Homo sapiens: one gene and its partners. The protein of the gene in region 1 purifies or fractionates together with the protein of each later gene. This does not show direct contact. Each region holds a gene or a part of one and is shown on either strand. Other genes may lie near its edges.

The links.
Region 2: the proteins of DGKG (region 1) and TNRC6A purify together in Homo sapiens (affinity purification with mass spectrometry, with the first as the bait; one large-scale study listed by BioGRID). This does not show direct contact.
Region 3: the proteins of DGKG (region 1) and USP16 purify together in Homo sapiens (affinity purification with western blotting; one study listed by BioGRID). This does not show direct contact.
Region 4: the proteins of DGKG (region 1) and NOP14 purify together in Homo sapiens (affinity purification with mass spectrometry; one large-scale study listed by BioGRID and IntAct). This does not show direct contact.
Region 5: the proteins of DGKG (region 1) and TBL1X purify together in Homo sapiens (affinity purification with mass spectrometry; one large-scale study listed by BioGRID and IntAct). This does not show direct contact.

The regions. Positions count from the first base shown.
Region 1 is NC_000003.12:186,354,145-186,360,498, reverse strand, and holds part of DGKG (diacylglycerol kinase gamma), read left to right. Parts: intron 1-6,354. UniProt on the Homo sapiens protein: Diacylglycerol kinase that converts diacylglycerol/DAG into phosphatidic acid/phosphatidate/PA and regulates the respective levels of these two bioactive lipids.
Region 2 is NC_000016.10:24,790,441-24,796,794, forward strand, and holds part of TNRC6A (trinucleotide repeat-containing gene 6A protein), read left to right. Parts: coding exon 1-1,377; intron 1,378-3,032; coding exon 3,033-3,209; intron 3,210-4,103; coding exon 4,104-4,279; intron 4,280-5,466; coding exon 5,467-5,499; intron 5,500-6,354.
Region 3 is NC_000021.9:29,029,640-29,035,993, forward strand, and holds part of USP16 (ubiquitin carboxyl-terminal hydrolase 16), read left to right. Parts: intron 1-955; coding exon 956-1,134; intron 1,135-5,197; coding exon 5,198-5,301; intron 5,302-6,354. UniProt on the Homo sapiens protein: Specifically deubiquitinates 'Lys-120' of histone H2A (H2AK119Ub), a specific tag for epigenetic transcriptional repression, thereby acting as a coactivator.
Region 4 is NC_000004.12:2,948,124-2,954,477, reverse strand, and holds part of NOP14 (nucleolar protein 14), read left to right. Parts: coding exon 1-54; intron 55-832; coding exon 833-967; intron 968-2,080; coding exon 2,081-2,203; intron 2,204-3,232; coding exon 3,233-3,364; intron 3,365-3,399; exon of another isoform or gene 3,400-4,264; coding exon 4,265-4,544; intron 4,545-6,069; coding exon 6,070-6,200; intron 6,201-6,354. UniProt on the Homo sapiens protein: Involved in nucleolar processing of pre-18S ribosomal RNA. Has a role in the nuclear export of 40S pre-ribosomal subunit to the cytoplasm.
Region 5 is NC_000023.11:9,471,502-9,477,855, forward strand, and holds part of TBL1X (F-box-like/WD repeat-containing protein TBL1X), read left to right. Parts: intron 1-6,354. UniProt on the Homo sapiens protein: F-box-like protein involved in the recruitment of the ubiquitin/19S proteasome complex to nuclear receptor-regulated transcription units. Plays an essential role in transcription activation mediated by nuclear receptors.

The DNA of each region.
Region 1 (6,354 bases):
GGAGATTCCATTCCGAATATGAATTATACTCCTTAAATAAAACGGCTGCAACTAAGCCAACTTCCCGGTCGTACTCCTGATCTATGTCTTTTTTGCCAATCACCCTTAACGTTTACACCCAGCACTATAGGCATTACTACAGGTATTTTTCTGGGAGGGGCTTTAGGGTGGGAAGCTAGTAGATGAGTCTTTCCTACCTTAGAATTTTATGGAGTGGTTGGTTCAGATCAACCGAGACATGGGGAGAAAACGACAAACATCAGCGTGTCTTGAAATCTAGACTCTCAGAGATGGGAGTAACTACTAAGATCATCTGTTCCAGCTCCCCCAACTGCTCCAACTCCCCACACAACACCATCAACAGATGGTGAGGATCCCTCCAACCCGGACACTCCCAGAGGCCCAGGCTGTGCATGTGTGAGCCTCTGCGAGGAAAGAACCCAGAAGCCAGCAACTCTCCCCTCTCCTACTGATGGGAGTTGGTGGATGCTGGCCCCATCTCCTCCCCTGGAAGAGAAGGGGGAAAAGGGCGGGGAAGTACCTTTTCTTTGTGGTAAAACTTTAAAACTTTTAAAATGTATATCTTATTGTATTACATCATTATAATGTACTCTTTTAGTATAAAAGTAATTCATGTTCATTGCCTAAAAATTGGGAAGTTGAAAAGTATGCAAAGAACAAATCAATCACCCATGATCCTACCACTCCCATCCCACACTGTTAATATACTGGCATATTTCCTTTCCATCTGTTTTTATGCCTCGAAATTATACAATCCATAGAGAGCCAGCATTTATTGGGTGCCTAATAAGTATACTTTGCATGGTGTTAAATTTTATATTCATTATATCCTTTAATCCTCAGGAGTCCCTCTGAGGTGTTATTACTATCAATCCCATTTTTCTAGGGTTGCATTTTTCTAGGGTTCTAAGACTTCAGGTGACTTGCCCAAGTTACATAGCTAGTATGTGGCAGAATCAAGATTCAAACCCAGGCTGTCTGACTCAAAAGTATGGTTGCTGAGCCCCTGTAGCTATTGGTTCTCTGCTTTTTTCTGAATTAGTGTTGTAGCAAAAGACCTTCATGAACATTGTTTTCCTGGCTGCATATTATTACACTGTTAGTTATTTAAGTTGCTTCCTGTCTTTAGCAACTACAAATAACTCTGGGCAAAGTCTTTACTGCACACACTTCCCATTACTTCCTTTGGATAGATGCCTAGAAATAGATCACCAGGCCAAAGGGCATGAATGTTTTAAGGCTCACAGTATATATGAGAAGCCACTTTTCAAAAAGGGTACACTAATTTAGGATTCCATTCACCAGAAACAACTCGGCCATAGTTCAAGCAGATGACCTTTAGGAATCCAAATAGGCCAAGGCCTCACACGACCAAGCCACATCACACGAGCATTCTTCAGTCTCATGGAAGAAGGAATCACACATATCACCTTGCTTTATACACTCGGGAGGGATTATGGAAACCATACAACATAAAGCTATACCTATTTTTATGTGAGCAAGTATCAGCTGCAGAATTCTCTAGCTAAATGTCACATACTAACTTTGAACAAATCAAACCATCATGTAAAATATACAAATGTGTATAATGTCCCACTTCTCCATACAAGTCATTATAACAACATTCACTCTTGTGAACGTGCATCATGATCACAGCCAGGTTCAGCAAGCTTAACCCATCAGCAACAGCTTCCTCACATACTGGCCATATTCAAAGAGTTGTTTATTTGTACCAAGTATCAGAATTCCACACCCAACCATAGTGAGAGCTGATGTCACTTTATAAGTAACAGAGTTTGTCTGACTAAAAAAAAAAAAGAAATCAAGGCTAGTAACTATTAATAGTAATAAAACAATTTAAAAATAAAGTTATACCCATCATTTAAAAAAAATGTCCTCAGGTGGAAACAAAATGTGGCTGGCAGAAGAGAGATTGAATTAGGCAATACAAAACACACACACACACACACAAAGGGTTAGAAGAAAACAAACTGGCCCTAGCTATGAGTTGTTCCTAGAGCCTCGTTGATCTCCAAGCCACCTCTGCCACCAGCAGTGGGTTTAGTAGCCCTGGAATATAATCTGTTGTTGCTCCCACTCTGAGATCAATTTATGCAAGATTCAGCTCAGGTCCGGAAACATCCTTCAGGGAAGCCCACCCTAGAGATGTCCTGAATCCACAGCACCTGTGCGTAAGCTTACCTCGCTATGGCGAAGTCACTATTTGCATATCTCCCACTGAACTATGAGCCCCCTGAAGGCAGAGACCATGTCTAATCCTTTTCTGTATCCCCAGCACCTGAGATAGTGCCAATCCATAGTCAACAATTAAATGTGACGAATGAACGAATAAGAGAATTTTCCAGGTCCTGTACTGGATGCTTTACGTGCATTTCTCTTTCAGCATACCTTTATTCTGCTCAGGCTAGTCAGTCCCAGAAATATACCTGAAAGGTGTCTAGAGCTGTGCTGTCTGTTTTCACATGTGACTATTTCCTGTTTAACTTTAGTTCATTAAAATTAAATGAAATTTAAAATTCAGTTCCTCGGTCACACCAGTCACATTGCTAGTGCTTACATGCAGCATGTGATTTCTGGCTATCATATTGGAGAATGCACATTTAAAAGATTTCCATCATTGCAAAAAGTTTAACTGGACTGTGCTACAGTGTAAGCTTGGTGCAAGCAAAGTGTGTGTCTATGTCTGTCTCGTTTTCCACTGTATCCTCTGCACTAGCACAGTGCCTAGCCCCGAAGAGATGAGGGAGAGAAAGATAAAGGAGGGATGGTGGTAGTAAATGTTGTGGTAATATTAGCAATAGCACTTACTGGGCACCGACTCTGAGTCCCACATTGGGCTATGTTCTGTGCACGCATAGCTTCACCTGATATTCACATCACTACACTCCTGGTATTAACCCCATCTCACAGATAAGGAAACTGAGTCTCAGAAAGTTTCAGTAATTTGCCTATGGTCACAAAGCTGATAGGAGAGACTGAGATTGAAACTCAGGTCTATATGATTTCAAAGCCTTTTCTCTTTATTTATCTTCTCTTTTTTTCTTGGACCTTTTGCTTTACTGCCTCAATAACTGCTGTGTGTTGTGATGTGGATTAGGATTGCCACCATCTTGGCTTCCTGGGAAATCACAGAAAGGGGACTTTTGAAAGCTTTCCAAGAGAAACAATGGGTATAATTTATGACTCTGAATCACATATCAAGAGTGCAAAATTTTGCTCAGGGTCTTAAGAGAACCTGTCCCTGGATGGGTGAAGGAGGGAGAAAGGAACCCATCCATAGTGTGGCCTGACCTGATTTCAGCGTGTCTTGAAATCTAGACTCTCAGAGATGGGAGTAACTACTAAGATCATCTGTTCCAGCTCCCCCAACTGCTCCAACTCCCCACACAACACCATCAACAGATGGCGAGGATCCCTCCAACCTGGACACTCCCAGAGGCCCAGGCTGTGCATGCATGAGCCTCTGCGAGGAAAGAACCCAGAAGCCAGCAACTCTCCCCTCTCCTACTGATGGGAGTTGGTGGATGCTGGCCCCATCTCCTCCCCTGGAAGAGAAGGGGGAAAAGGGCGGGGAACCAAAAACCTACAAGAGCAGACCAGTCAACCACCATAGTCTGTGCTTCTCCTCAGGGAGTCCTGAACCAGCTCTTAAGATCTCGCAACCTATTAATGGGGTAACTTGGCTCTCAAATCCCTGGCCAACGCCCTTTTCACTGCTCCACCCTACCTCATGGGCCATTTGCTCCAGTGCCCTCACTATTATTATCATCACTCTTGTCCTAGTTTTCTCTAATTTCTTTATTCTTAAAGAATAAAGTGCAAAATTTCAAGGGAGTCCTAATCAGCATGGAGAAGACTGAAATTACCACCTCCTCATTCTATTTCCTATTTCTATTAAAACTCTTTAAGGTCTAATTAAGAATCTATACCATTGACACCTGTTGAGCTTAATATCAACTGAAGTAACCCAATTCTCTTTTAAACTTGCTCTTGAACTGCATTGCCCACCTGCTCGCCTTCACCCGATACTTGCCCACACCCCCTCACAGCCACTCTAGAGACTGTGCATTGTTTCTCATTTTATCTTGTTCAGTTCAGTCTGCCTCGCCAACTTGCCCAGATATTTCTGGCTGTGATTCTAGCATCCAGTGTATTTACCGGCCCTCTCAGCCAGCTTCCTGCCATCTCTGAATCTGATGAGCACGACCTCTTCATCTAAGTCATCAATAAAAATAATGAACACTATGGGATTCTGAGGCATTCCACTGTATGTTCCCTAAACATAGATATTAATTCAATAATTAAACAGCACTTACTTAGAAAATTTATTCAGCTTTCTGTACTATAACTGAGCCCATATTTCTTCATCTTTTTCAACATTATTAGAAGAATCTTATCAAAGGTCTCTGATAAACTCCAAATATTCTTCATCACTGGTATTTCCTTGATCTTCCGTCCAATAATCTTGTCAAAGAAGCAATTTTGTTGGTCTGACATAAACTAATTTCAGTGATTCCATGCTGGTTCCTTGAAATCACAGCTTCAATCCTAAAAGCTCATTCCACATCCCATTCCAGAATGTTCCCTGGAATTAACATCAGTCCCTCAAATTAAGACATTTTTATAAATTTTCCCATTTTAAAAAGTAGAACTTTATTTCTCATGAAGGTGATGGTAGTGGTGGTGATGATGGTGGTAATGGTGGTGGTGATGCTGGTGGTAGGACAGTGATGCTGGTGCTGGTGCTGGTGCTGGTGATGGTGATAATGGGGTAATGATGGTAGTGGTAGGACAGTGATGCTGGTGGTGGTGCTGGTGATAGTGGTGGCAGTAGTAGGGGTGATTATTGTGGTGGTGGTAGTGGTGGGGTGATGGTGGTGGGGGTAATGGTGGTAAGGTGGTGGTGGTGGTGATAGTGGTGATGGTGGTAGTGGCAGTGGAGGTGATGGTGGTGGTGGTGATAGTGGTGATGGTAGTGGTTGTGGGGGTTATGATAATGGTGGTGATGATCATAGTGGTGGGAGTAGTGTTCATGGTGGTGGTGGTGGTGGTGATAGTGGTGATGGTAGTGGTGGTGGTGGTGATGATCATGGTGGTAGGAGTAGTGTTGTTGGTGGTGGTGATAGTGGTGATGGTAGTGGTGGTGGGGGGTGACAATAATGGTGGTGATGATGATCGTGCTGGTGGTAGTGGTGTTGGTGTTGGTGGTAGCGGTGATGGTAGTTGTGTGGGGAGTTGACGATAGTGGTGTTGGTGGTGGTATTGATGGTGGTGGTGATAGTTGTGGGGGTGATGGTGGTGATAATGATAATGGTGGTTGGGGGCAGGGTGATGATGGAGATAGTAGTGGCTTCCTTAACTCTATGATTCTGAACAAATTAAGGAGCATGGTCTAATTACCTCAATTGCACACTGTCTCAGCACCCTGGGATGTTATTCAATTAGGATTAGAGATATATATTAATTTGGGGCAGATCTAAGAATTTCTGGCGTCATAGAAAATGAGATCAGAGAAGGAGCCAAGAGAACATCTGGTTCTAAGCCTTCATCCTGAGAAATAAGGAAACCCCCAACATAATAAGTGCCCTGCCTGGGGTTACCCAGCCAGAATAGGAGCCAGGGTCTCACCACTCTGACCAGTGCCTTCTCCAGGGCATAACTCCTCTTTTCACTTCCTTTTCTGAAGAAGCTTAAGGCTTTATTTCCTGCAAAAATATCTATTTCTCCTCTTGGAATTCGCTTCTTAAGTCATTGATGCTTCAGTGAAAGTTAAAGATTCTTTCCTGGAATCATGATGTGTAAGAGAAAAGAAGGAAAGAGCTTAAGAGCTCTCATTTTCCAAGTGAAAAATGGAGGCATCTAGAAAAGTCTGCTGTGGCAAGAAAAGGGATGGAAGAGAAAAACTCAATGGCCAGACAGCAGCTGACAAAACCCAGACTTGCCTGCCCAGTTAATCATTTGGGTCCATCACTCCTTTCTGTGTGTTTTGCGTTGGAAGTTTTCTTCTCGCCTTGGGAATAAACAGTGTCGTCTGCAGAGAAACCAAGTTTTCACTTTGCTGATGGCTGATCTGGTGTGAAAGTTCCAAGTAGCCAAAGGTCAGTGAGGCCACTTTGATCCTTAGATGCTGAAATACTTGAAATGTTTTTGGCCTAAATGTTTCCATTTCCTGCTGCATTTCTCCACCCCTCTGCTCTGGGAACAGTGGCTCATAGTACTTCACCAGCTCCGTCGTGCCCCTGACTTGCAGTTAAAGTAAATAAGCTAGAGAAAGCTCTTTCCAGCTCCCAGAAGGCCAGGGTGTCCCTTCCT
Region 2 (6,354 bases), on another chromosome or scaffold:
GATGGGGAACCCCTGCACAAAACACTGGCACTAATTTACCCAGCGTTGAGTGGAACAAACTGCCTAGCAATCAGCATTCCAATGATAGTGCAAATGGCAATGGTAAGACGTTTACAAATGGATGGAAATCTACTGAGGAAGAGGATCAGGGTTCTGCCACATCTCAGACAAATGAGCAAAGCAGTGTGTGGGCCAAAACAGGAGGTACAGTGGAGAGCGATGGTAGTACAGAAAGCACTGGACGCCTTGAGGAAAAAGGAACTGGGGAAAGTCAGAGTAGAGACAGAAGAAAAATTGATCAGCACACATTACTCCAAAGCATTGTAAACAGAACTGACTTAGATCCACGTGTCCTGTCCAACTCTGGTTGGGGACAGACTCCTATTAAGCAGAATACTGCCTGGGATACAGAAACATCACCTAGAGGGGAACGAAAGACTGACAATGGGACAGAGGCCTGGGGAAGCTCTGCAACACAGACTTTTAACTCAGGGGCATGTATAGATAAGACTAGCCCTAATGGTAATGATACCTCATCTGTATCAGGGTGGGGCGATCCCAAACCTGCTCTGAGGTGGGGAGATTCCAAAGGCTCAAACTGCCAGGGGGGGTGGGAAGATGATTCTGCTGCTACAGGAATGGTCAAGAGCAATCAGTGGGGGAATTGCAAAGAGGAGAAGGCTGCATGGAATGACTCGCAAAAGAATAAACAGGGATGGGGTGATGGACAAAAATCAAGCCAAGGGTGGTCTGTTTCTGCCAGTGATAACTGGGGAGAAACTTCAAGGAATAACCATTGGGGTGAGGCCAATAAGAAATCCAGCTCAGGAGGTAGTGACAGTGACAGGTCCGTTTCCGGTTGGAACGAACTTGGTAAAACTAGTTCTTTCACTTGGGGAAACAACATAAATCCAAATAATTCATCAGGATGGGATGAATCTTCTAAACCTACTCCTTCCCAGGGATGGGGAGACCCTCCAAAGTCTAATCAGTCTCTAGGTTGGGGAGATTCGTCAAAGCCAGTCAGCTCTCCAGACTGGAACAAGCAACAAGACATTGTTGGATCTTGGGGAATCCCACCAGCTACAGGCAAACCTCCTGGTACAGGCTGGCTGGGGGGACCTATACCAGCCCCAGCAAAAGAAGAAGAACCCACAGGCTGGGAGGAACCATCCCCAGAATCTATACGTCGCAAAATGGAGATTGATGATGGAACTTCAGCTTGGGGAGATCCAAGCAAATACAACTACAAAAATGTGAACATGTGGAACAAAAACGTCCCAAATGGCAACAGCCGTTCAGACCAGCAAGCACAGGTACATCAGCTGCTAACGCCTGCAAGTGCCATCTCAAACAAAGAGGCAAGCAGTGGCTCTGGTAAGTTTCTATTTTATGAAATCAAGCCTTGTTTTAACTTACTGTTATTATAAGATTTGTATAACAAAGTACTTGGATATGCACACAAAGGCTGTTCTTACTGTAATCCAGAAGCAGCTTGAAAAAAATTATAGGGGTGATGTTTACCACCAGAGAACAGAACTCCACTTTTGGCAGTGTTGTTTGAGTCCTGCACACTTCATTCTCTATTAGAAATGCAAGAGAAGGCGAATTGGACAAAGGCGGTCAAGTGGGAATGCTGTACACTTCTCCAAGTTGTTTTTGAGTTAGGCCTTAACTTGTGGTTTTATTATTTGACTAAAATATCTCCAGAAATAAAACAAGTATCTCATAAATACAGTACTCTCTAAACATTAGGTTGTATATTTGGCTTTAGAAGGGATTTTTTTTTTTAAGTAGGTGAGAAATCCAACTCTACTTAGATACAGTATATATGTTTGTGTATTTAAAACATTTGACAATACCTTTCTAGTATATCCTTACTTTCCTCTCTAATAATGAACTAATTCCTATCTCTGCAAATTTTCCCAACAACATTTTTGTTAAGTGTGATTGGCTACATTGTCTTTGTTAATAAAAGTTTTATTGACTTAATAGTCTCATTGGAAGTGGATATGGGAGTGCTTTCATGAGCTAACTTTTTGGCACTGAATTTTTTTTTTTTAGTCTAAGTATAGTTTGTTGTATTAATTTAGGTTTGATTCTTAAAAGGAAGAAGTATGTATCTAAGATGAAGCCTGTTGGCTTTGATTTTTTTTAATGAAACATTTATGGCTTTTTTTTTTTTTTTTTTTTTTTTTGCTTTGGACAACCTCAGCCTAATACTTCAGATTTTAAAATAAGCATTGTTCAGCATATGTAAAAAGTAGGTGACCCATTATTGTTAGCTGGGTAGTAAATTGTTTTTCCAGTGTAGGTGGTGTGGAAGGGGTACACTTGTGGCACAATTTTTTTTTTTTTTTTTTTTGGAGATGGAGGCTTTCTCCGTCACCCAGGCTGAAGTGCAGTGGCATGATCTCGGTTCACTGCAGCCTCCACCTCCCAGGTTCAAGCAATTCTCCTGTCTCAGCCTCCTGAGTAGCTGGGACTACAGGTGTGTGCCACCACGCCCAGCTAATCTTTGTATTTTTAGTAGAGACCAGGTTTTGCCATGTTGCCCAGGCTGGTCTCAAAATCCTGACCTCAGGTGATCCACCTGCCTCAGCCTCCCAAAGTGCTGGGATTACAGGCATCAGCCACTGTACCCAGCTGGTACAGATGTTATACATACACTGTCACCCAGCTTATCACCTGCTCCAATTTACAAGGTTTGGTTTAGAATGACTTGACTTTTTCAGGAATTAAACTGATGCTCAAAGGAGAGTGGTTTTCCATAACTATGCAAAAATCAGCTCTAGGTCTAGAGGGTAATTATGAAAAAAGTTAAAAAAATTCTCACCTTATATTAATGGGAAATAGTTTGTCTTTTTTTAACATAAAACAGATGCCATCTTTTTGCCTATCACAGTATCATTATTCAGTACATAAACATGAAGTTCTTCATCCTTGGTCCCTAAGTTTTCTTTATTGTCCCTTATTCCACTGCACCTCCTTACCTTCTATGCTGATGACTTCTTTTCCCACACTTTCTAAAGGCTGGGGTGAGCCCTGGGGGGAGCCTTCTACTCCAGCCACAACTGTGGATAATGGTACTTCAGCATGGGGTAAGCCCATAGACAGTGGTCCCAGCTGGGGGGAACCCATTGCTGCGGCATCCAGCACATCCACGTGGGGCTCCAGCTCTGTTGGTCCACAAGCATTAAGCAAATCTGGTAAGTTATTGACAATGCCTGGTAGCTGTTATGTAGCAGTGGCGAACACTCACTGACTATAATTAAATAATTAGATAAGGTTTCTATGTTATTTATAATATATTCATATAATGTAACATGATAGATGATGTTCAGTATTTTGCTCTTTGATTTTGTAACGTGGTTTATTCTCTTTCTGAATTTTCCTCTTTTCTCATATTTCTTAGAACTGTAACTATTCATTTGCATATACTTCATCAAATCTAAATTATATTTTACCAAATTAGGTTATCTAGGAAGAGTCTACTAGCAACTTTCATGCCATCCAGCCTGAGAGGCCAACTAGTGTAGCCATGAGGACACATATTCAGACTGTCAGATGATTCCCTGAAAGTTACAATTAGCATAGTTCAGAAAAGACCCAAGATTGAAATTAACATTGTCATTATCCCATAGGCTGTGTACAAGATGCCCGGTAGGAATCCCAAGGGCCATGTGTGAAGATAAGATGCTTTCTGCTTAAGGCTTTGAATACTCTCTGGCCATTCTCCCTAAAAATATATATAAAAATTAATTCTTTCAAATTTCATTCATCTTCTTTGTCCTGTGCATCACTATGCAGATTATTAAGTGGGTACAAACAAGAGTGCTACCATTGTCCATGTTCAAGAACTATGATTTGTTAAAGGCATGGAGGAGTTTTATTAAATTTTTAAATAAGAATATATTATTTTTCATGGAAGGTTTAGCTCAGTATAAAACATACTTTCCTTCTGTGCAGATGCAGGAAGGGAAATAAGTGTGCACGTGTGTGTTTTCTTAGGTTCTCTACCCAATTTTTAATATATACTTATTCTCCAGAAGGAATTCTTTTATTAAAGTATGTTTCTCTTTATATCACAAATCCACAATCAGGGCCAAAATCTATGCAAGATGGCTGGTGTGGTGATGATATGCCATTGCCTGGAAATCGCCCCACTGGCTGGGAAGAGGAAGAGGATGTGGAGATTGGAATGTGGAATAGTAATTCATCTCAAGAGCTTAACTCATCTTTAAATTGGCCACCATATACAAAGAAAATGTCATCGAAGGTAAACATTTCAAGGGCAAAGCCCTTGAAACTTTAAATTCCAAAGGTAGTTTACCCACAGAAAATTAACTTTTCGCCTGCCCATTTCTGGCGGTCAGTACAGTCCAGGCAGCCCCCACCTTAGGTATAGCCACTTGTATGGGCAGCCACCTAGAGAAACATAAGAAAGACCACAGGAACTTCCTTTCTCCCCACTGCTACAGCTTGGGATTTCTCTCTTCCTCCCCCTCCACCAGTGCTGCCTGGGACAACCCCTCATCCTAGGGTGGTGCCTGCAGTGGTGAGGATGAAGAGGAGGGCAAATCTCCATGTTGACTCTTTCCATCCCACTGCCAGTTCATCTCCCATTTCATTTCCTCACCTGGAGTCCCCCGCCACCCGCTTACCCAGAGTCACCATCCTCCTTATTCACCTGTCATGTTTGTCCCTATCCCATCCCAAAAGGTCCTGTGACAAAAATCCCTAGGAATGATCTGAGCTTGGTTTTGCTTTTATGTGTGGACAAATCATATTCCTAAAGCTGGCTGTACATCGAAATCCCATGGCATTTGTTAAAAATGCAGCTTCCTGTACCTCAGGTCTACTGAAGTTTTGGAAATTGGACCAAGTTTCTTATCCTAAAGAAACTCCTCAAATGTCTCTGATGCAGAGCCAGGTTTGGGAAGCACTGATTTAGAGCACTGGTTCTTAAGAGGTGGCACTGGGGGCTGCTGTCAGATCCTCCTGGGGACCATTTTCAAAATATGTGCCCAGTCCCCCAGGTGGTTCTAACATAACATCCTAACCCACCCTACTTGAGAATGATTACCTTTTGAGGGACCTTAGAAGTCAGATACCAGTGGATAGCTGGACTAGGTAACTGCCAAGGTTCCTCACTTTTAATCCTGGGATTCTAAGTCTAGGACCTGCCATTTTCATTTTTAAAATTTTTCATTTGGCTGAATTTGCCTATTGCCTTGCCATATAGCTTATGAAGTGCTTTTACATGTTTTACATAAGTCATTTGATCCTCACAACCATCTAAGATAGGACACTGATGAATTTGAGACTGGAAAAGGTGGTGACTTGCCCAAAGTTGCGATAACTAGTAAGCGACAGAGTAAGGACTTAAGTTTAGGTCTTCCAGTTCCAAACCCCATGTTCTTCCCACTGGACCATGCTGTTTTGTGACTTTGTCTTTCCTTACAGGGTCTGAGTGGCAAAAAAAGGAGAAGGGAAAGGGTGTGTAGCCTTTTTACTCTTTCTCCTTTGTTTCTACTAGTAAAAATCTTTAGAAAGCAACTGCAAACATTTATTTAGCCTCTGCTGTGTGCCAGGTACTGTGCTTGGTGCTGGGGATTCAAATACACTAAGATATGAGTTTCACCTTTCGGGAGCTCACAGTCTAGTATGGGGCATTAGGAGAGCTTCATAGAAGTGTCAGCTTGAATTTGGAAGATGCTTGGGATGGGATGTGTTAAGGAAGATAGTAGCCCAACATAACCAAAATGTAGAATTTTTAGGAAGAAGTGACAAGAGATCTGGCTCTGTAGTTGAGGCAGATTGTAGTGTCTTCAGTAGCATGCCAAGGAATTTGAACTTTATTTTGTGTAAAATATGGAACCAACGAAATTGAGTAGAAAACAACATCAGTGGGGTTTTTAAATTACTAATTTTAAAAGAAAGCTAATCAGTGATAGTATGAAATATAAATTGGTGCAGAGGGGAGACCACAGTTAGGGATCTCAGGGAGCATCTGCGTTAATTCAAGCTAGAAAGGACAGCTTGAGTTGGGAAATAAGAATGGATATATAGTGGAAGGGACTAATTTGAGAGGCATTTCAGTCAGAATAGAAAGGACAGAAGAACTTGGCAACTAGTTAGGTATGGGGATGGATGGGGTGAAAGGAAAAGGGATCAAAGCCAACTTCAGAATCTGCGGAGAGAGTTAGATGCTTGCTTCAGAGACCTGCATTTGGGGGGAAGTTGTGAAGCTGTGTTCTGTTCCACAGTCAGAAGGAATGGACAGTAGCAATGGGAAGGGGTAATGAAGTAATGAAGGCAACAGACTGAGAATGGTCCAGTGAGACCATAATG
Region 3 (6,354 bases), on another chromosome or scaffold:
TTGGCCCCAACAGAGTTTTCAGCCTCAGGTTCAACTGCTCATTTTTGCACATTGTGTAACTCCATCATCTGGGGAGACAGCATGCACTTTCACATGTTTTTGTTCTTGGCATGGGCATTTTCAGATTGCCCTTCACTCCCTGAGGTCGCAGTTTAAAGTGTGAGCTATGAAGTCTGAAAGACTTGAGTCTAAATTCTGGCATAGATACTCAGTAGTTATGTGGGTACTAAATCTTAGTTTTCTCATTTGTCATTGGGAATAATAGTGTCTTCTAGGGTGATTGTAAGGATTAAATGGGATAATGTATTCAAAACATTTAACAAAGTTCATAGGACATATTTAATTAATATCAGCAATTTTTATTACTATTATTATCTTCTAGGATTGCACAGATGTTACCTCCCCTGTGAAACTTTTGGTGACTTTAGCCTTCTCTGCTTGTGCTGCTATACCATGTTTCGGAGATTCTTATACATTAATTTATTTAGCTGCCTTTCCTTCCAGAATGTGAGCTACTCAAAGAAAACAGCTGTGACTTGGTCAATTTTGGGCTCCTGAGCGTCTAGCACAGTGCCTGCCCTATAGTAGGTGTATTATTGACTAAATGAAGGACGTTTTCTACAAATCTTTAAAGATAAAGAGAATCATAAGTATGATAAAGGGCCTTAATTTAAAGGAAATAGCCAAATAAATTGAAATGAATTTGTAGTGGGGGACAGTGGTGGTTATATTTAGGACTTCAAGAAAGCGAAACTTCACAAATTTGTGTCAAATCTCTTTCTCACATATTTATCTCATATTATTCAAATATCAAACAATTTTAAGTTCAGAATATCTTAACAGTTTATAGAGTAAATTTCATTTTTGAAATGTGAATCGAGGGTAAGTTTTGAGATTAACTGAAGAAAGTCATTTTTGACCTTATATATTCCTTGTCTATTATTTGTTTTAATAGAACCTGTGTGCAGACACATTAGAAAAGGATTGGAACAAGGTAATTTGAAAAAGGCTTTAGTGAATGTGGAATGGAATATCTGCCAAGACTGTAAGACTGACAATAAAGTGAAAGATAAAGCTGAAGAAGAAACAGAAGAAAAGCCTTCAGTTTGGCTGTGTCTTAAATGTGGCCATCAGGTATGCTTACGTTTTAAGATCAATATGGGATTTTAGAAAACTCTTTGAACTTACTTTAGAAGGTATTACCTGAAAGTACAGTATGGATAAAAGGATACTAGTAACATAGATCATGTTCTCTGGAGAACCAGTTCTGAGATGTGTGTATAGGTGGTGGAGTGTTCTCTGGTACCACACCAGTAAAAGTAAGGGAAGCAAGATTAAGCATAGGGAGAAGTTGAATGAAGAGGCAGTGGCAACAGGGTCTCAGCCAATCCCACAGTGATCTCTTGCCTGAATTGAGGCAAGGAGCTAGACCTTTCTACCTGTGCATAGACCAGTCATTGGATGTGGCCTGCCCCTAGAGCAGGAAGTAACCTTGGGCAAGGCAGCTCCCTTTTGTTGAGACTGATTCCTGGGGATGGATGGACTAGACTGTGAGCTCTCAGCCGGCCACATTCTCAGCACCTGGGGGAATGAGTAGTACCTTGATCTTTGGCAGTGAGGGCATGTCTGGCTGGCACATCACAGTATCTACTCTACCAGCTCACAGTTATTACCGTGGTACTAAAGTCAGGGTCTCTCAGTTACCCTTAGTGGTGGCAAGTTAAGCTTATATGTTAGGAAATTGGGCTACTAGGCAGTAGTCATGAAGTCATGAGGCTTCAAGATCAGGCAGATAGCCAGTTTTTTGTTGTTTTTTTGAGATGGGGTCTCACTCTGTCACCCAGGCTGGAGTGCAGTGGCACAATCTTGGCTCATGGCAGCCTCCACCTCCCAGGTTCAAGCAGTTTTCCTGCCTCAGTCTCCAAGTAGCTGGAATTACAGGTGTGTGCCACCACGCCTGGCTGAGTTTTGTATTTTTAGTAGAGACAGGGTTTTGCCATGTTGGCCAGGCTGGTCTCAAACTCCTGATTTCAAGTGATCCACTCACCTTGGCTCCCTCAAAGTGCTAGGAATACAGGCGTGAGCCACTGCGCCCAGCCAGGATTTTTTGTTTTTTCACGTTTTCAAATTGAAAATCTTATTGAGGTTATTATAGATCATGTGCAGATCTAACAGATAATACAGAGAAATCCCTATGCATTTTTCTCAGAGTCCCCCAGTGGTAACATTTTACAAAATGAGTATAATATCACAACCAGGATATTGAGATTGAAACAACACACCAATCGCAATCAGATCTCCTGAGTTTGACTTCTTTTTTTGTGCATGTGTGTATGTGTACATGTGTATTACATTCTGTACACTTTTGTCACCTGTGTAGATTATTCACCACCACAGTCACGATACTAAATAGTTGAACATCACAGGGATCTCTTGTGTTGCCCTTGTATAATCATACCCACCTCCCTACTGCCACCACTCTCTGCAGCCCCTGGCAACTACCATTCTATTCTGTATTTCTAAATTTAGTCATTTCATCAAAAATGTTATGTAAATGGAGTCATACAGTGTGCAACATTTGGGGATTGGCTTTTGCTTTTTTCTTTTTTTGAGGCAGGGTCTCACTCTCTCACCCAGGCTGGAGTTCAGCGGTATAATCACGGCTCACGGCAGCCTTCACCTCCCAGGCTCAAGTGATCCTCCCACCTCAGCCTCCTGAGTAGCTGGGACTACACCTGCATGCCACCACTCCTGGCTAATTTTTGTATTTTTTCTAAAGATGCGGTTTTGGTATACTGCCCAGGCTGGTCTTGAACTCCTGGGCTCAAGTGATCTACCCCCCTGGGCCTCCCAAAGTGCTAAGATGATAGGTGTGAGCCACCGTGCCCAGCCAGGATTGGCTTTTTCACTCAGCATAATCACCCAAAGATTTATCAAAGCTGTGTGTATCAAGTTTGCTCTTTTTTTATTACTGAGCGTATTTTATGGCATATAGTACAACAGCTTGTTTTTACTGTTTACCTGTCGAATGACAACATCTGGGCTGATCCCATTTTTTGGTGATTACAAATAAAGCTGCTGTTAACATTTGTGTACAGGTTTTTGTGTGAACTTAGATTTCATTTCTCTAGGATAAATGCCCAAGAGTGCAATTGCTGGGTCCTATGGCAATTTAATGTTTAGTTTTTTAAGAAACTGCCAAACTGCCAAACTGTTTTTTCACAGTGACTCTACCTTTTATATTCTTACTAGCAGTGTATGAATGATTCACTTTCACTTTTTCTTCATTTTTGCCAGCATTTACAATTGTCACAGTTTTTTATTTTAGCCATCATGATAGTTATATACTGATATCTCATTGTGGTCAGTTAAAAAAATCTGTATGTTAGAAAAGATACTGTTTACTTGTATTTGAAAGGTTTAATTGTAACCTTTTAAATACATATGGTGAGTATGAATATGCTTTGCTATTTCAGTTTTTCAGAATATATTTTGTGTTACAAATTTTTGTGCTACCTTTTTAATTTGTAAGAATAAGACATGTCAGTATTAACTGCTAACTTTTTTCCCACTAGATACCTTTGGCACTGTTAGCTAATGATTCTTAACTGTTGTCTCAAGACAACTATGTTTCAAATGATCTCAAATGATGTTGTAATTTTCAAAAATAGTATCAAATGTTAATTCATTTATTTTGTAATTAAATGTTCAGTGGGATAAATTAAGCGAATAGTGTTTGGGATCATAGTTAAGGAATTAGAAATTACCAATGTATATTTCTTCTCCAAAGTATATATTTAGCGGCAATGGAAACACGACCGGTTGTTGTACTGTGATCCAAAAGTTGATAGACTGGTTCCAGTAGATACACAGTGAAGATATGTTTCTCAGCAGTGATCTGACTAGCTGAAAGCAGAAGTTTAGGTCATGTTCTTTTATGAATAAGCCTATACATCTTTTAGGTAAAAGTCTCCCATTTACTTGTTTAAATAGTGTTTTTTGACCACCTCCTGTGTTCTAGAATATTTGGTAATAGATTAAGTCTACTGCCTTGAGCCTTTGGGATTTATAGACCAGGTGAGAAAGGATATAAATATCAATAACGTTAGTACAAGGTAAAAAATAAGGAATGCCACTAGGAATTCATGCCATGTTTTATAGAATTTGTTTAAAGGAAGGAGACAGTATTTTCTCATCTGGGAGATAAGTATAGGCTTCTGGGAGGAGGTGGCTTTTGAGCAAGATCTTGAAGAGTGGGTGGGATTTGGTTAGGTAGCAGTGTTCATAAAGGATTCTGGATAAATAGAATAATGTGAACAAAATTGCATAGTTGTGAAAAGCGCTCAGTGTGTTTTTAGCTGGTCGTTGGTATGTGAATAAGAGAATGTGGGAGTTAACACTGGAGAGATATGTCGGGGTCAGAGGATGTCAGGTTTGTTTATTAGGAGTTTAAGAGTGCAATTCATAATTTTTGAATGGTGTATGAACAGAGCTTTGTTTTAGGAACACTAAACTGAAAGAATATGCATGTGAAGAAGGAGGCTGAAGTTAGGGGAATGTTTAGGAGACTGTTAAGGAATCCAAACCAGACTTGACTGCATTAGTGTGGTTTAATCTGGGCTGGAAAGTTGGACAAGAAGAGTACTTTGAGTGCATGGTTTTCTTTTTTTTTTTTTTTTTATTTTGAGATGGAGTTTTTGCTCTTGTTGCCCAGGCTAGAGTGCAGGCCCAGACGTGATCTTGGCTCACTGCAACCTCCGCCTCCTGAGTTCAAGCAGTTCTCCTGCCTCAGCCTCCTAATTAGCTGGGATTACAGATGTGCGCCACCACACCCGGCTAATTTTTGTATTTTTAGTAGAGATGGGGTTTCACCATGTTGGTCAGGCTGGTCTCGAACTCCTGACCTCAGGTGATCCCACCCCTGGCCTCAGCCTCCCAAAGTGCTGGGATTACAGGTGTGAGCCACCGCGCCTAGCGAGTGCATGGTTTTCTAAATACTTGTTGACTTAAATGTTCTCAGTTGCCTGTGCATATGTAAGTTTTAACAAAATATTGATTCTAGAGTCTAACATTTTCTTTTCAAGATTGTAAGAATGGCAGAATTTCATGAGCCACTTCCTTGTTTATGATAGATTATGCATTCTCCCCTCTTGCTGAGTTTTTATGGCTTTGAGGTTTATGATTATGATTTTTTTAGGGCTGTGGCAGAAATTCTCAGGAGCAGCATGCCTTGAAGCACTATCTGACGCCAAGATCTGAACCTCACTGTCTGGTTCTTAGTTTGGACAACTGGAGTGTATGGTGAGTTTCAGTTCCTCTGCCTCTTGGGTGGAAATTATTTGAAATATTAGAGAATGGAAATGTTTAAATATGTTTAAGAAGAAAGCAATTTAAAATTTTTGTAGTATGTTTTAAAATACCATCACTTTCACAAAGCTAAAGAATGCAGTATTATGAGAAGCTTTTACTTGGACGTTTGCACAAGCACAAACATTGTAACATAGAAGACTTAAGAATCTTTACCCCTTTGTTTTTCTTGCTTGTGATATTATAAGGCATATAGTGGAGATAGGGACGCTAAGAACAAATTTCAGATAAAATTGTAATAAAATTTTGGCTATGAATTTGCATGAAAATAAATGTCAGTCTGGTATGTTATAGATGCTGCATTGTAACATCATTAAAACAGATTTTTACGTCTTAAAAATCATTTTCACAGTAGTCTTCACTGAATGACATCTTTTTTTTTTTTTTGAGACGGAATCTTTCTGTCGCCCAGGCTGGAGTGCAGTGGTGTGATCTCGGCTCACCACAACCTCCGCCTCCCAGGTTCAAGCAATTCTCCTGCCTCAGCCTCCCGAGTAGCTGAGATTACAGGGATGCACCACCACGCCCGGCTAATTTTTGTATTTTTAGTAGAGACGGGGTTTCACCATGTTGGTCAGGCTGGTCTCAAACTCCTGACCTCGTGATCCCCTTGTGATCCGCATGCCTCAGCCTCCCAAAGTGCTGGGATTACAGGCATGAGCCACCGTGCCTGGCTTGAATGGCATCTTTCAATTGTAAAAGTTGTTACTTTTGTCTGGCTAACACGTTGAAACCCCATCTCTACTAAAAATACAAAAAAAAAGTAGCTGGGCATGGTGGTGGGTGCCTGTAGTCCCAGCTACTCGGGAGGCTGAGGTAGGAGAATGGCATGAACCAGGGAGCTGGAGGTTGCAGTGAGCCGAGATCCTGCCACTGCACGCAGCCTGGGCAACAGAGCGAGACTCCGTCTCAAAAAAAACCAAAAAACAAAACAAACAAAAAAAAGTTGTTATTTTTGTTAGTGTTATTCTGTATTTTAAAATATAT
Region 4 (6,354 bases), on another chromosome or scaffold:
AAGTCCCGGAAAGAGCTGATTGAAGAGCTCATTGCCAAGTCAAAACAAGAGAAGGTGGGTTAGTGAGTGTTCTTGATCATCTTCTCCACGGTAAGACAGGCTCACCAAAATGTGTTTGAGCTTTTTTTTCCTGTACCTTTTTAGGCTGTGTTTAATATTTTATATGAGTTCAGTAAAAGCATTTATTGTGAGTAGGAATTTTAAAAATCACATAAAGCATATACCTCGGACAGGTTTTGGTTCTTTTGCCTTTTTTTGGTTTATGTTTTGTTTTATTTTGAGACGTAGTCTCTGTTTCCCGGGCTGGAGTACAGTGGCACGATCAAAGCTCACTGTGGCCTCAAACTCCTGGGCTCAAGGATCCAGTGATCCTCCCACCTCAGCTCCCCAAGTAGCTAGTGGGCGCCACCATGCTCAGCTAATTACTTTTTGTAGAGATGGGGATCGTGCTGTGTCGACCAGGCTCAAGCAGTTCTCCCACCTTGGCCTAGTTCTAAAGCACAGGGTGGGCCACTGCACCTGGCGCGGATGGGTTTTTTGTTGTTGCTGGTTTTAGTATCTGACATGTGCCCAAAAAATCACTTTTTTATTCATTTGCAGTGAACTGCTCAGAGCATCTAAATTAATGGTTTATGGCAGGAAAAGATTTCCGTCTGATGAGATTTGGTAGCTTTGCATTTAAAATACTCATTTCTCCTGGCCTCTTTTCTGTGTTGAAACGTTTGGTGCCAACTGAGTGATCACTGTGTGTGTCCTTGGCACTGACATTGGGCCTCTGGGTTGAAGTCCAGTAGTAACGGTATGTGGTGTGTGTCTGTTATTTTTTCCCCAGAGGGAGAGACAAGCTCAACGAGAAGATGCCCTCGAGCTCACGGAGAAGCTAGACCAAGACTGGAAAGAAATTCAGACTCTCCTGTCCCACAAAACTCCCAAGTCAGAGAACAGAGACAAAAAGGAAAAACCCAAGGTGGGAGCCAAGTACTGAAACAAACTCTTCACTCACTGAGCTTGGGTGACCGACTTTCTCCAGAGAAAGGGCTGGGGCTGGACGGCTCTTCTACCTGTCTCCTTTAGGGCAAGTTTCTGTTGAACATTGATACTGAATTACCTGCTGTGTGTAATCTTGGGGTGGAAGTAGATTCAGTTACTTGAGTCTCTATTGCAGGTGAATTAAACTGAAAAAAGTGGTGTTTCTGGATGGAAGAAGTACTTCAGGGTGGACACGTTAGAATAGGTGTCTGAACTTCCCTGTGACATGTTTGTCTGTTGATACATAATACATACATTTAATATACATTTACTTATTTTTGCCTCTGTAAACAGTTGTTTCCTACTGCATTCTCTTTAGTCGAAACTATTGGAAAATGCTGCATTTGTTTAAGAAACTGCGTTCTCAGAGAAGTCTAGATCCCAGCAGATTAGTGTCATGTGGTCATCTGTGCATCTTTGTCAGTCAGCCTTGATGTTACCGTTACTTTACTTAGTTTCCCACGTTTAGGGCGTAATGCCTGGATAAGTAGCGTTTTTGTTGTTGTTTGAGACGGAGTCTCGCTCTGTCACCCAGGCTGGAGTGTAGTGCAACCTCCACCTCACTGCAACCTCCACCTCCTGGGTTCAAGTGATTCTCTTGCCTCAGCCTCCCGGGTAGCTGGGATTACAGGCGCGTGCCACCATGCTTGACTAATTTTTGTATTTTTAGTAAAGACAGGGTTTCACCATGTTGGGCCAGGCTGATCTCAAACTCCTGACCTCACGTGATCTGCCCACCTTGGCCTCCCAAAGTGCTGGGATTACAGGCGTGAGCCACTGCACCTGGCCTGTTTTCGTTAAAGCAGATGTATTCTGAGAATTTTTCTAGGGGTAAACAAATTCTTTGTGACCGAATGTCCACTGATTTCGCAATCCTCAGGGCTTATCAGAACAGTTTTCTCTCTAGAAGAAAAGACGTAGATGTGGCTTAGCTACTTCAATAACATTATCTAGCCATTACTAGAATGTGCCAGGAAGCTAGATCTTTTCTTTTTGTAAAATAAGAAATAAATATATTTTTAAAATGAAGAATTTCTTCTTTCTACCTTAGCCCGATGCATATGACATGATGGTTCGCGAGCTTGGCTTTGAAATGAAGGCGCAGCCCTCTAACAGGATGAAGACGGAGGCAGAATTGGCAAAGGAAGAGCAGGAGCACCTCAGGAAGCTGGAGGTAGGGTGGCAGCACCTCAGGAGCAGGGCTGTGCTGCTGTCCGTCCACAGCCCCTTCTGCTCCATTTTGCAGGATGGGCTGAAGAGAATACTCTGTTTGATCAGTGGAATATTTTAGTCTATTTAAAGTTTATATTTATTCATGAATACCTTTTTTTTTTTTTTTCTTTGAGACAGAGTTTCGCTCTGTCACCCAGCTAGAGTACAGTGGCACAATCTTGGCTCACTGCAAACTCCACCTCCTGGGTTCAAGTGATTCTCCTGCCTCAGCCTCCTGAGTAGCTAGGATTACAGGCGCCTGCCACCACGCCCGGCTAATTTTTGTATTTTTAGTAGAGATAGGATTTCGCCATGTTGGCCAGGCGGTCTTGAACTCCTGACCTCAGGTGATCCAGTCACCTCGGCCTCCCAAAGTGCTGGGATTACAGGTGTGAGCCACCGCGCCTGGCCCCAGCTAATTTTCAAAAATTGTTTGTATAGATGAGCATCTCCCTATGTTGCCTAGGCTGTTCTCAAACTCCTGGTCTCAGCTGATCCTCCCACCACGGCCTCCCACAGTGCTGGGGTTACAGGTGTGGGCTGCCATCACAGCTGGCTCAGCTGGCTGTTTTGACATAACCACATCACTAGCTTCTTCCCGTGTCCAGTGTGTGGTCAAATAGTGGAGGCCGTGGAGCTGCTTGCTCTTGGCGTCCTGGCTCCTATTCTCTCGGTGCAGGGGGTGATGAGTCCCAGTCGGGGCTGGCCAGCAGAATTGGGCTGTGAAGGCCTCAGAATAATAGGCTTGCCTGGTGACTGGAGAGTATTGGCCACAAAGTTTGAACAGTTGATTTTGTTAAATGAGGAATGTGCTGCTTAGCTAGTGTTTGCATGCCTGATTGAAAACTGCAGGCAGAAAGCAGGCTGGATGCACCAGCCTCAGAGCTGGGAGGACCGTAGGCCCAGCCCGCTGCCCAGGGCAGGACTGCACGGCCCCCTCACCATATGTTGGAAGAGTGTGCTCTAAGACATCTCATTCCTTCCTGCTCAGGCTGAGAGACTTCGAAGAATGCTTGGAAAGGATGAGGATGAAAATGTTAAGAAACCAAAACATATGTCAGCAGATGATCTGAATGATGGCTTCGTGCTAGATAAAGATGACAGGCGTTTGCTTTCCTACAAAGTAAGATGTTTGCCTTCATTTTCTCTTTCTCTCTCTTTTTTTAATTTAAAAACATTTTTTTGGTATTCATTTTAGGGATTTATTACAGTTGGGAATTTTAAATCTTTTTAACCAGTTTCTCTAAAGTTCTTTATCTGGGTGTTTATGGTATATCAGATATTAAAACTTTAGAGAGAAGACTTTAACAATAGTATGTGCACTCACTTGCTCACGCTCTCTTTCTCACTCTCTCTCTCTGTCTCAAAGGAACACAGATAAAACTGATTACTCGGTTAACATCAACTACTTTTGTTAATAACTGTATGATTCTATCTGCATGACCTCATCATACTATTGAGGGAGCTAACTCAAGGCTAGAGTTGTGAATTTTCTTTGAGTGATGTCATTGAGTTTCCATGACTGGTGTAGTTTTTAATTCACGAACTTTATAAATCGGTACCCTTTTCTCGTTTTAAGAGTGTATCAGTCAGGGTCCAGGGAAGAAAAATAGGCAGGACAGGTTTCAAGCAGAAGAGATCCACACAGGAAAATGGATACTGATAAAAACACTAGGTTACCTGGAGGAGCAGAAGGTGCTGTAGACACTCCTCCTGCTAAAGCCCGCAGCCACTGTACACCTTCCAAATCCCAGTCCCATGCTGCTCCCTGGCAAAAGCTGAACCGCGCCCAGCATCCTGCCGCAGGGTTCTCTAGCAGCCTGTAGCTCCTGCGGCTCGAATAGCCTAGAAGCGGGTGGTGGGCAGGAGGCCTAGTGCCAGTGGGCAAATGGAGCACACAGGTTTGTGTTCCTTGCAACCACGTAGAAAGCCCTGATGTGGGCAGCCTCTTGATGTGGCTGTGAGATGGTCCAGCGTTGTCTCCGCCTGTCCTCATGCCCTGTGGTTTCCACGCTCTTGGTAGGATGGAAAGATGAATGTCGAGGAAGATGTCCAGGAAGAGCAAAGCAAGGAAGCCAGTGACCCTGAGAGCAACGAGGAAGAAGGTGACAGTTCAGGCGGGGAGGACACAGAGGAGAGCGACAGCCCAGATAGCCACTTGGACCTGGAATCCAACGTGGAGAGTGAGGAAGAAAACGAGAAGCCAGCAAAAGAGCAGAGGCAGACTCCTGGGAAAGGGTTGATAAGCGGCAAGGAAAGAGCTGGAAAAGCTACCAGAGACGAGCTGCCCTACACGTTCGCAGGTGGGCAAGTGCGCGGGTTTCCTCAGGTTCTGGGATAACCTTTATGACCTGGCCATAGCTGTGTGTGTTCGTCTCCCTCCCAGGGGTTGCATTTGTGGAATGGGGACCAAGGATGCCCTTGGGAGTGCCTGGACACACCCCTGTGTCTGCTGATCCAGGTCTTAGAGTGAGTGGTCATCTTAGTTTGTGACTGTGGTTCTGTAGGCCGGCCCCCGATGGGCCAGATGCGCCTCTCTCTAGTGGTACCTTCACCTCCCTTTTAGTATATGGTCAGCCTCTTGTGGTGGACCAGAGGGGCAGGGCTGGGGAGGTGGGTGAGCATCTGCGAGAAGGCTTCCATGTTCCCACCTGGGCCTCCTGTTTGGCCACGTAACATTTTAGATGGAATATACAGTGTTGTTTTGTCTAGTATGTGGAGAAAAATTGTCCAGGCCAGGTGCGTGGCTGATGCCTATAATCCCAACACTTTGGGAGGCCAAGGTGGGTGGGTCACTTGAGCCTTGGAGTTTGAGACCAGCCTGGGCAACATTGCGAAACCTCGTCTCTACCAAAAATATAAAAAATAAGCCTGGTGCAATAGCTTGTGCCTGTGTTCCTAGCTGGTCAGGAGGCTGAGGTGGGAGGATCACTTGAGCCTGGGAGGCGGAGGTTGCAGTGAGCCGAGATTACACCACTGCACTCTAGCCTGGGTGACAGAGCAAGACCCTGTCTCAAAACAAAGAAAAGAAAAATGGTCAGGTTCTAGTAAGCAATGCCGAATTATTCTGTGCCTGCCAGACGCTTCCAGAGGAGAAGCTAGTGGTGAAGCTGGCCTCTGTGAAGTGCCCTCTGGTGGCAAGAGTCTCCTGAGCTGACACTGCTTGGCTCACAGTGGCTCCTTCCAGGTCCTTCTGAAGCAGTCTGGGCACTAAACCCAGCACCCTGCCACCAAGATGCTCTGAAACTGTGGGTGTTTTAGCAAATTCCTAATCAAGGAAAGGTGGGAGGGCATTTCCTTATTAGCCTGTTCCCAGGTGCGTGATCGCACCTGACAGCCCAGGTCAGGATGGCTGAGACCCCTCCAGGTGTACCAGGGCAAACGCTGGTGGGTTTGTTGTGATCGTGAAGTAGAATAGTTATATAAAATTACCTCTCTGTCAGCAGACATGTAAGTAATTCTCATTTTAAATGTGAAATGTGGGCCAGGTGCGGTGGCTCATGCCTGTAATCCCAGCACTTTGGGAGGCCTAGGCAGGCGGATCACCTGAGGTCAGGAGCTCAAGACCAGCCTGGCCAACACGGTGAAGCCCTGTCTCTACTGAAAATACAAAAATTAGCCGGGCATGGTGGCGAGTGCCTGTAATCCCAGCTACTCAGCAGGCTGGGGCAGGAGAATCTCTTGAACCCAGGAGGCGGAAGTTTCAGTGAGCTGAGATTGCACCACTGCACTCCAGCCTGGGCAACAGAGCGAGACTCCATCTCAAAAATAAATATATATACATATATATAAATGTTAAATGTGCAGTATGTTTTGTGTTTTTGATAGCCCCTGAATCCTATGAGGAACTGAGATCTCTGTTGTTAGGAAGATCGATGGAAGAGCAGCTTTTGGTGGTGGAGAGAATTCAGAAGTGCAACCACCCGAGTCTCGCAGAAGGAAACAAAGCAAAATTAGAAGTACGTGGATTGAGTGTGTGTGGAGCGCTGGGAGTGTCAGCATAGCCCCGTATATGAATGCCAGAATTGTGTGAAGTTGTGCAACGGCCATGTGTGCCTCAGGCCAGATGGGGCCAGCCCGTCACATGGTTACCTATGATGATGGCTGGGAGTA
Region 5 (6,354 bases), on another chromosome or scaffold:
ACATTGGGATCAAGTGACAGTTGTTTATGTCCGGTGCCTAGAGTATCAGTTTTCCCATGATTAAAATAAGCGATATTTTGGTAAACATTGATAAGTTAGTTGCGCATTTTAGTTCAGAAACCCACAGCGAGTCAGAAGGCGCTTTGTGCTGCTGGGCGCCTCTGAGTGATTCCGGGGAGTGCGGCAGTTCTCCAGCCCCAGGAGACCCTGTGAAAGAAGCACAAACAATGCTCACGGCAAAACTCACAGTGTTTATTCTTGACCTGGGTGTCTGCCTTGAATTCTTGTCATTTTTCCTATCGTGGTGGATGTAGCCGGAATGCTTTAAAGAAAACATGAGAGTTTTTTCTGCCTGTTTCCCTTGAGCCTGGAACCGATTATGACCCCAGATAGCCTGCACAGGGCTCTTTCCTTTCTGGAACACCTGCCCAGGCTAGAATATGGGAGTAGGGAGGAGGTGAGGCTCTCTCCTGCCCGGTAACCTTCCCGGCCAGCTCTCCAAGACGCTGAAACCTTCCTTCGGGTCTGTTGAAACTGCATCCCCAGCACCATCATGTCGGAGCAAGAAGAGAAGGGCATGTGTCCCCTTTAGGCTTGACTCTTTCCAATTAGGGACCTGCCTGTTGTTAGGATTTAGAGTCCATGTGAATGTGCAGTATTGTTCAGTGCTGCGAGCATTTTTGCTTGTCTGAATTTCCTGATAGAAGGGAATTTGGACAAAAAGAAGCTTATTGTACATGGTGCCATTTTATTCCTTAAATCAATAATAACAAATACTTTATTTATGTATTTTTAGAGATGGGGTCTTGCTCTGTTGCCCTGATCATAGCTCACTGCAGCCTTGGCTTTCTGGGCTCAAGTGATCCTTCTGCCTCAGCCTCCCAAGTAGCTGGGCCGACAGGCACAAGTCAGCATGTCCAGCTTTTTTTTTTTCTTTCTTTTTTTTTTTTTTTTTAATTTTCAATTTTTTTCTAGAGATTGGGTCTTGCTGTGTTGCCTAGGCTGGTCTTGAGCACCTGGACTCAAGCAATCTTCCTGCATCGGCCTCCCAAAGTGCTGCGATTACAGTTGTGAGCTACTGTTCCTGGCCAACATATACTTTAATATGGCAAGACCATATAAAATAATTTTAAGAGGCCAGGTGTGGTGGCTCATGCCCCCCAGCACTTTGGGAGGCTGAGGGGGGCAGATCACGAGGTCAGGAGATCGAGACCATTCTAGCTAACACGGTGAAACCCCGTCTCTACTAAAAATACAAAAAATTAGCCAGGCATGGTGGTGGGCGCCTATAGTCCCAGCTCCTTGGGAGGCTGAGACAGGAGAATGGCGTGAACCATGGAGGTGGAGCTTGCAGTGAGCCAAGATTGCGCCACTGCACTCCAGCCTGGGTGACAGAGCAAGACTCCGTCTCAAAAAAAAAAACAATAATTTTAAGAACTGGAGGAAAATTCAGCAGGACTGAGTCGTGATTTCAGTTTCTGGTGCACTGTGGGTAATTGGGTAATTGTCAGCCTGGATGCTTGTGCTCCTTTAGTTGTCACTGTTACCTTGTCATCTATGTGAAGATGAGAAATGAAGTTGAGTGGAGAACTGTCGCCAAAGTCTGCCATGTAAAAATCGGTAGTGCCAATGTGCAAAGGTAATTCCCAGGTGCTATAAAAGTCCAGGTGGCTTCACAGTTTCAGATTGTATTTCCCGAAAGCGTAGAGAATTGATATCCCTGAATAGGAAATTGACGTCCCTGCCATTTGGTTCATTTGGGGAACAGAATAAACTTGTGTCCTTGCCTTCAGTTCTTTTTTCAACAGAATCTTATCAAGCATTTGAATCGTACACAACTGTAATGCCAGCTCCATGTTGATAAAAACTCAAGAATTCAAAATTATAAACTTGAAAACAGCAATTGCCAACTTCTGACAGTAGCAGGAGAGTCTGGAGGACCTGTTCAGAGGAAGTCGGGTACTGTTTCCTTTTCTTGTCTAGGTTTGTTCTTGTCCGATGGGATCAGAGAGATTGAGATGGGGCATGATAGGCGGTGGGTTCAGGAGAAAGGGAAGCTTTAGAAATGAAGGTAGAAAAGATGCTTTCTTATTGGAACAGTGTTTTCAACGTTGAGCTCTGGAATGTTGCAGCCAACTAATGGTTCTCATTTGGGACAGTTCTGTCCCCCACCTTTGAAGGGGGTTTGGTTTAATTCCCAATTTGATTATGAAGAAAATACCAGATTCAGCTTGCATTTTCAAGACACAGTGGTTCTATGTCAACTTCAGCCATTTCCAGGGATCTGTCTTAGGATACTTCAAAAAGCCTAACCTTTGAGATGCACTCAGCTCATAAGTTCGTGAAAATAAGAATGAATAATCTTCCCTGTCCAGTACATGACAGAAATTATTGTAGACCAGATGAGAGCAAGGAGAGATACTTGTTGATATTACATGTCACGGGATGCTCTGTTAAATTTTATGGGACTCTGAGTGTAATTCCTTTAAGCCAGTAGTCTCTAAATTTGGGGGAAGGACAGGGGACAGAAATGACTTGTTTCAGATTTTAATTCCCAAAAGGGTCTTAGTGAGTTTCATGCCCTCTGGCAGGTGCACAGCAAGATTTATTGGGATGCAGGAAGAAATTATGAAAATGTCCATTAAGAAAATCTCTAATACTTGTAAAAAATATATTTCTTGTCCATGAAATGCATGTTACTTGAGTATTTTATATATTTAATAAATTACATGAGTTAGGAGCACCTTCTGAAAACTTTTTTGCTGAAAAGGATATATGATGAAAGAAACATTTATGATGTAGGTCCCCAAAGGCTGGAAGAGGGGGTGATACCAACGTCCCTGCCTGCAGGTAGGACACAGTTGTACTCCCCTTTCCTCTGACTTCAGCTACTAAGGTATGTGTGCGTTTGCACGCACATGTATGTGCGTTAAGTAACTTTGAGATCCACCAGCTTAAGGACTGGACATCGTTCCAGAGGTACAGGTATTAGTGATTTGACTTAGGGAAGAAAGAATATGCAATAACAGGGAACCATGCACATACTGGATCTATTGTATTTTGCGTGTTGTTTTTAAAGCTGAAAAAATGCGCTTGTTTCGGAACTAGATGACAGTACCTGTTTGCAGGTCCACAAGGAAACCTTGGAACAATGCTATGCTTTTTAAGCGTTTTATGACTGCATTGTTTTCATAATCACTGAATTCTGTTTATAAATCAGCTGATTTCATTGACGGATGCCCTCAGGGCTCTGGAGAATTAGGCGTTTTGCTGCAGAAATGGTTCAGAATTTCAAAGACATCAACGTGAGATTGTACTGGAATTGAGTTGTGATAAAAGTCCTAGGGTGCTTTAAATCTTTAAATCTGGTTATTTGTTTGTTTGTTTTTTGAGGCAGAGTCTCACTCTGTCGCCTAGGCTAGAGTGTAGTGGCGTGATCTCAGCTCACTGCAACCTCCGCCTCCTGGGTTCAAGCAATTCTCCTGCCTCAGCCTCCCGAGTTGCTGGGATTACAGGCGCCTGCCACTGCACCCGGCTAATTTTTGTATTTTTAGTAGAGACGGGGTTTTGCCATGTTGGCCAGGCTGGTCTCGAACTCCTGACCTCAGGTGATCCGCCCACCTTGGTCTCCCAAAGTGGTGGGATTACCGGCGTGAGCCACTGTGACCTGCTGTTTTTGTTTTTGAGACATATTTCATCTATCATGGTTATTAAGTGTTTTGTTTTTTTGCATTTCTCATTGGTGTTTTTTGTTTGTTTGTTTGTTTTTTTGAGATGGAGTCTGGCTCTGTCGCCCAGGCTGGAGTGCTCAGCTCACTGCAACGTCTGCCTCCCAAGTTTAAGCAATTCTCCTGCCTCAGCATCCCGAGTAGCTGGGATTACAGGTGCCCACCACCACCACGCCTGGCTAATTGTTTTATTTTTAGTAGAGATGTGGTTTCACCATGTTGGCCAGGCTGGTTTCGAACTCCTGACCTCAAGTGATCTGCCTGCCTCGGCCTCCCAAAGTGCTGGAATTACAGGCGTGAACCACCACGCCTGGCCTCATTAGGTTTTTTTTTTTTTTCTGAGTTGCTGCTACACTACTGGTGTTACAGAGTGAATAAACATAAAAATTATATTCACAACTCAGACCACATTGTGGGCTGTGGAGGTGAGAAATAGGAATCATCTCTAAATTTAAGGTCTTCTGGCTGAGCTCATTTGCTTAGAATGGCTGAAGGTTTGGTTTTCATGAGATGAAATGCCAACCTCAAGTGGTTCTGGGTTTCCAGACCAGTTTTTAGTTTGTTTAACTTGAGAGAATTGATATGTCAGCTTTAGTTTTTGTGTGTAATTTTTGGTGTTTGCATCTGTTTTCTTCTTTGTGAATATTGAATTCGCAACATAACTTTGTTATATGAAATGATGCTCATACACTTGCGCAGTGCATTAGAAAGCCTGCCAGGAGCAGTACTTGTAGATTTCCGTGTACCAGCAGGATGCCTAATGCCGACCATGATTAATGCTCATCAGAATCTATGTAGACCTCCATTTGTCCTTTGATAAGCTGAAATATTTGTGTCTACTTTTTAAAAAACCTGTTGCTTCTCTTTATGGTAATACTCAGAAGGCACTCACTGTGAAGAGAGGAGAAACAGGAAGTAGAATTTTTTACTATCTAGATTGATGCACCTATCTCCCCTCTCCAGAGACCAATGCATTTAGGCCCCAGTAAGAAATTTAGTTGTAATGAACCATAAAGCAGATGCAGAGTATATTTGGGAATATACCTTATCTGACTCCACAGCCCAACCCCTTTAAGAGGAAAGAGATGGCACAATATATTTTGCTTTAAGCCTTAGACTGGTCTTGACTTCATATTGGAACCACTGAATTGCTTCAGCTGTGAACTGGAATCCTCTCCTGTCTTTGTTGTTGAGTGATGACACTCTTAATTAATCATTTGCTTATTTGCCATCCAAATCACCCTATATAATCTTTCAGAAGTGTATCTCAGAGAATGACCCTAAGTCGGCTGACCTCTGAAGCCTGTACCAGAATTGACTTTATTTCTTAAGCGCACACTTCCTGTGCTTTCAAGGGGCAGCTGTCTAGGTTTAGTTTCTGGGAGTTTGAGGCACAGAGGTATGTAGGGGAATGGGAAGGCCAAATGGTAAAAGCCCCTGGGACGTGGAATCTGTGAGTACACTAACCTTGAAAGAGATTATGAAAACAAACTTTAGAGCATTGTTGAAGCACCATCTACATAATTTATATCAATGAAGACAGTAACTTATTAGGAAGACAGGATTATTAAAATTAACCATTTTCATCTTTCTACAAAAATAAAAATCAAATCAATTTTAGTTCAGATAATTGTATGTGAAGCTTTATAAGTGAAAATTTGAAGTTAGCAAAATTATATAACCTTAGTTAATTATATTAGTGTACTCAAACTAAATATAGAATAAGATTAGCTCATGGAAACATTGCATTTTTATCTCAGTCAGTACTGCTCATATCCACCCAGTAGTTAGTTTCTAGTTACGTTTTGTAATTTTTTGAATATCCTGGACATGGTTTTAGAAAAGTTAGTTGAAACAAGATATTGTATGCTTTCATTATTTCCCAGTTCATCTTTAAGCATAATAAAAACACAGAGTAAGTTGTCCTTTTTGAATTTTCTTTCCTTTCTAATATGTGTCTGGCACAACAGAGGACCAAGCCCAGGGATCATTAATCCCATTTTTCTGCATGGCGTTTGCTGTGAGAGAAGTTTGGGCTGGATTCGTAGTTTGCTATCTAAGAGTAAATGTTCAACCTTCTCTAATTTCCTGTTTTGTTTGCTTTTCCATTCAGTGTTCTATATTTGGACAACAAATATATTTTTCTGTATGGGTTTCTGGTGGCCCAGATGTTCATTGGAGTGGAAATTCTTTCTGTCCACACCACTGAGTTGGGCAGTTACTGGTGTTTGGCTTTCTCTATCTCTTGGAGTTGACTTAGATACATTGTGTATTCAGGTTGGGCACTCATCCCCTTTGCAAGCTCTATTACTTTGTTCCATTTGGCTTTGCCATAAATGTTTGCCCTTGGCTTGCCAAGACGTCAGCTTTAAGAGATATGTCATTTAACTTAGAACTCTTGAGTCTGACTTAAAATTAAGTCAGTTTTCTTAAACATTGTTATTGAGGTATAAATGACATGCCACAAAAGTCACCTCTTTGAGGTGTACCATTCAGGGATTTTTGGTAAATTTACTGGGTTGTGTAGAGATCACCATGATGCAGTTTTAGAACATTTTCAATTCCCAATAAGATCGCTCCTACTCGGTTCTCACCCATTTCTGCTCCCACCTCCAGCCACGGGCCA